2 separate regions of the Homo sapiens genome follow, and region 2 is linked to region 1. Evidence: fine-mapped expression QTL. Tissue or cell type: fibroblasts. Region 1 holds a variant in brackets; the other region holds the start of a gene. All regions are shown on one strand. Distances are from middle to middle.

What was found. PIP is the estimated chance that this variant, and not a neighbour inherited with it, causes the effect.
Region 2: it holds the start of SLC35F5, and the variant in region 1 is fine-mapped to the expression of SLC35F5 in fibroblasts (GTEx, PIP 0.97).

Annotation. Positions count from the first base shown.
Region 1 is chr2:114,050,964-114,053,725 of GRCh38, reverse strand. No RefSeq gene overlaps it. Among named protein-coding and RNA genes, the nearest start is that of LINC02992, 72 kb to the right of the region's middle. The variant T/G (reference allele first, on the strand shown) is at 1,615.
Region 2 is chr2:113,755,368-113,757,998 of GRCh38, reverse strand. It overlaps SLC35F5 (solute carrier family 35 member F5), which reads left to right and starts at 1,357. Exons shown (of 16, transcript NM_025181.5): 1 at 1,357-1,629; 2 at 2,455-2,545. The coding sequence starts at 1,590. RefSeq lists enhancers at 582-631, 812-991 and a silencer at 1,202-1,431.

The DNA of each region.
Region 1 (2,762 bases):
AAGTATCCCAAATTAGAAGGAATGTGGACGGGCTTTCTGAGTAATTTCCTTGAATCCCTTCTTCATTGGCTTAAAATCAGTGAAAAGTATTAATGAGGGTGGAAGAAATGCACAGAACCCTCTCAGGTCTCTCTGAAGAAATCCTCTTTCCACTCTTCTTCTGTCTCTCCCCCTACAATTGCTGAAAGTGGGTGGTAGGCCAGTGAGCACAGAAGCAACTTCACAGCCTCCTTGCACATTCTGCTCAGGTGGTCTTGTCTAGCACACTGTCTTATGAGTGTGGATATTTGGCAGTAGATGGTTTGTTCTCAGCCTTTGGAATCTTCACTGAAAATCTGAGATGAGGGTAAGAATAACATTTAACAACTTGTTACTCTCCTACATGTATCATCCTTAACAAAATTGCCTTATTTTGCAGAGTGTCACTATATGACCAGCCATATTTAGACCTTGGGAAGATGAGAGTTTGGAGATGATTAAACAAATAAGAAAGAGAATATCGTTTGTATTCTTGAGGTTAAGAAAACCTAGTAGAGACTGTAGCAGAAACTTTTTTAAATTATTGATCCGCCCCAATTGTCTGATGCCCCATCTCTTCAGAAACTCACCCCCCCCCCACTTTTCAGATGGTCCTCAACAGCTACGTTTGCATGATAACGCCCCTCACTAGCCACAGCCCACTGGACCTATGCCTGACATATTCCTCAAGACAGGCCAGTTGTATTACTCTCCTGAGAATCAAGGATTGGACTGAAAATCCTATCAAAAGCTGTATTTGGAAACGTTGGCATGTTGAATAGAGAAGCAGAGAAAATCATTCTGCAGAGAAAGAGAGAGAATGGGGTAAATACAAAGACATGGACAGAGAGGGATTCTGTAAATGTTCTGCTTCCTGGTTATCTTCCAATTGACTAACTGCATCCCTGCCCTTGTGGCTTATGACACTCTCTATATCTGTACACAAATTATCTTTTTCCTTAGATTAACTAAAGTTAGTTTCTGTTTCTGCAATCCAAAATATCCTAAACAATACAGAAACAATACATAAAAGGGAGTTGAGAACACAGCAACACCATATGGGCAAATATAGTTGATTACTGAAGGCATCTCAGAGACTCATTATCTGGTGTAAGCCTCAGAAGATGAGTAGAATTGTTATGAGATGAAATTGAAAATATTCCAGTTAGAGAAAATAGTATAAGCAATAGCAAGGGGGTAGAGAACATTCAACATTTAGCTGAGAGGCCTAATGTGTCAAGAGAAGTCACCAGAAAGAAAATTAGATAAATAGACAAAGGAAAGGTTTTAGAGAATCATTAAAACCATTCAAAAGAAGTAAAGAAATTCTTAAATTTCAGCTGAGGGTAACAGGATAGAATCTGTGCTATAGAGGCTAATTATTAAATGAGTACTTAGGACAAAATCAAAGAGTAAGGGGACTGGAGACAGGGACAGCAGATAGAAAGCAACTGCAATAACCTGAGAAAGGAGTAATGAGGGATCCATCTAGGACAGTGGTAATTGAAATAGGAGGGGAAAAGGCCAGTTTGACATTTTGGTGCTGAAATCTGAGTAGGGAGTGAGTGATAGTCCCAGGGCAGAAATAATCTCACA[T/G]GTAAATGGTGCTAAACGTGGCCATGTCTGAGACGATTTAATGAGCTGCTTTCCTGGTACGCTAAGCTGCTGGGCAAGTTGGATGCATGCTGTAGCAGACAGGTGCTGTTTCCCAACTAGCAGCATCTTTCCACTTCTTTGGGTAGCATCACTGCAGTTTATTTTGAGGAACTGGATAAGGAATCTCTCCTAAACTTACAAGTTCCATCTCACCTCAGAACTTTAGACGTGACACAAATATCAGTATCTCTGTAATGTCTCTGTCATGGAAAGAGACAAGTGAAGCAGTATCAGACTCTGTAGCTCTCAACCCTAGAAGTAGAGAGTCAGGTTTATAAAAACCCCACCCTGAACTCACCTGTTGTGTGATTCCCACCCCAAGTCAGACATCCTTGGTGAGGAAGGTGTTGTGTGGGCATCAAACAACTGTCATACAATTAATCTTCCAAAGCCCCCTCTTGCTACACTTTGCACCATAGAGTCTATAATGTTAGATTACCCAGGATTGAATTTTGACTCTCCCGTTTACCAACTGTGTAACCTTGGCCAAGATAATTAACTTCATTTTGACTCATCTTCTTCATCCGTAAAATGGGAATGACAGTAACACCCACCAGATAGGGATTATGAAGATTAACCTAAGACTCACAAGGCGCTTAGGACACTGTCCGGAGCATGTGGAAAGCTCAAATAATGTCGCTAATAGTATCAGAAGTACTCGAACATTTTGGCTGGTTATTGTCCAAAAAAGCAGCTCAGCTTCTCATTGCACAAGGGCTCAGATAGTTGCATTTGGCACATTATATCCAATTTCCCATAAACAAGCTTGCCCATAAAGTAATTTCATTCATAAGTGCACTTAAGAGTGCACTTCATGGAAAACTCATCCTAGTGGGCCTATTCCAACGACGCAGCTAAATTTAAAGTCAGAAGTTTCACGGAGATTATTCTAAGATCCTTCTTTGGTGAGTGAAGCGTTTGGCCGGTAATGTGTGCCCTCAATGTTTTCATAATAAATAATACAGACCTTTGAGCCTAAACCATATACATTTGCCAATGATTTTTACATCTGCAGTATTTTTTCTTTTAACAGAAATGTTTCTGTCTCTGGTTTGACTAATACATGGCCCACGTGCCAGCACTGCTTT
Region 2 (2,631 bases), 300 kb after region 1:
GCTGGGATTACAGGCATGAGCCACCGCGACCGGCCTGGTTGGTTTTTTTTTTTACTCTGCACAATAGGTTTCTGAATGACTTATTAGAGGTGTTTGATGCTGATAGTTTGAAACTGATTCGATCAATTAAAAAATGTTCATTGGTATTGTTTTATTAGTTGCTAGAATATGCATTCAACTTCACTGAAACGAGACTTAAAAGGTAAGAGGTACACTACATCGCGACTATAGGAGTAAGAAAATTTAATTTCTTCACGCCATCTGACCAAGATGTTAAATTACTGAACCCTTTAGTCTTGTTTTTGTTTTGTAGATAGAAATCAAGATGCTGGACAAACCTTTCTCATGGAATAGTCAAAATATTTAAGGAACAAATCTATACAGTTTAATAACTGCCAACATTTGGCAGGGCTCATGCCTGTAATTCCAGCACTTCGGGAGGTCGAGGCGGGCGGATCACTTAAGACTAGGAGTACGAGACCAGCCTGGCCAACATGGCGAAACCCTGTCTCTACTAAAAAATATAAAAATTAGCCGGGCATTGGTGGCTTGCGCCTGTAGTCCCGGCTACACTGGAAGCTGAGGCTGGAGAATCGCTTGAGCCCGGGAAGCAGAGGTTGCAGTGAGCTGTGATTGTGCCACTGCACTGCAGCCTGGGTGGCAGAGAAAGACCCTGTCTCAAAACAAACGAACGAACAAAAAATTGCTGACGTCTGTGAGGTTCTTATTATGTGCCATGAATTGATCTACGTCCTTCACATATGTAAACTCATGCAATCCTAGCATACACACAAAAAACCAATGTGGCAGGTACTATCATTATCGTAGACAAGGAAACCGAGGACCAGAGAAGTTGAAGTAGCTTGGCCTAGGATGTAGGTTGTAACTCCTAGAGCTGAGATCTTGTTTATATACAAAAGGTTTCAAGAATCAAAAGTACTCTAAGCCACTTTGCGTTTCGGCTGTCATCGAGAAAGGGATATCCGAAGTTTCAGGTTCGCAGTTTGTGAAACGGAACGGCCAGCTTTCGTTCTAAGGCGGGCGGAGGTTTAGCCACTCCCTCGTCCTTTGCTCTGCCCCAGACACCCACGCTCGCTTTCCTCTTCTTCCTCCACCTCGCCCTACTTCCCTTCTTCCTATCTTCTCTCTTCTTTCGCCTCGCCGCCGCGAGCCCTCGCTCGGCGACCAGAGCCTCGCATTACTTCCCCTAGCTCCGCCAAGCCTCGCTGCATACGCGACCGCGCGCAGTCCGCCGTCGCGCCCCTATGACGTCACCCGCGCGCCACCGCTTCCGGGCTGGGGACTGGGGGCGGGGCCGCGCGGAGGGCAAGCCGGGGGCGGGGCCGGGGCCAGAGCAGATCTCCGGGCCTCCGCGGCCATAGCTGACTGTGCCGTCCCTTCCCCTCACCCGCTCCACGCCCTCCTGGGCCGAGTGGAGTTGGGTGGTGTCGGGAGCCTCTCCCTGAGGGGCACCGCGTCTTCAGGAGCTGGGCCTCCAGTGCGGCGCGATGTCAGGCGCGGTGACAGCTCTGTGAGTCCGAGGCCGCGGCCGTGGCGCTGGGCGGCTGCGGGGCCTGACCGGTCCGCTCATGGTGCCGCCACGACGCCATCGCGGGGCAGGAAGGCCAGGTAGGCAGGCAGGGAAGGGCCCCGACATCACCGGAGCCCAAACCGGGACGGAGTGCCCACCAGCAGCACCACCTCCTGCCCTCGGTGGCAGCAGGAGCGCCTTGACCGAAACCGTGAAGGTCTCTAGGGGCGGAGGGAGCGGGAGCTGACAGGGGCGCCGGAGCCCTGCGCCCACCGCTGGCAATTGAGGAAGCCGTGCGTGCGCCCTCGCCTCGGCTCCCCGGGGAGGCGTCGCTGCCTTAACTGTCTTCCCCGCTCCAAAACAGAAGGATGATTTCTTTTCCCAGCTGTTTCTTTTAAAATGACTGGATGTTTTGATAGAGGTGGGTGGAGGAGCATGGAGAATCCTTTTCTTTTACCACTTGAAGAGATTGGAAAGGTGCCTTCAAGACCCACAGCAAATCACTTACTCTCCGATAACCAAATTCCACTCCAGCAGATCAGGGACAGAAAAGACACTTTTAGAAACAGTGTCTAGACGCTGTCCCCAGGGATGGATTCCTCTGGATGGAGAGGTGAATGGAGTTCCGTATTTGTGAAACTCAGAGAAGCTATTTTCTGGTAGTTAACTGTTCTTAAATGTGCCGTATGTTGTATATTACTCCCCCTCCCTGCCCGCCCCGTATCGCGTATCTCTCTAAGTATAATCTGAAGCGTGCAGTGGATACCATGAAAGTACTGAGAAAGGTGGCAAGTATGTTTAACACATTTTGGTCCTTTTCATTGATTTGCTTTGAGTTTGAAGATGAAGAGTAAAAAACGATGTGATGAATCTTACCTTGAGTTATTCACGTTTTCATAGCATAATTTCATGGTTGTTTTTAGGGGTGCTGAGTTCTTCACCTCCTTTTAGACTGAGATCTGCCAAGTTTTCCGGCATTGCTCTTGAGGATCTCAGAAGGGCTCTTAAGACAAGGTAGATTCCACGTTTATCCTCTATGTAACTTTCACACTGAACATTAGCTAACAAAAGTCAAATGTTTCTGTTATACTAATGTTCTC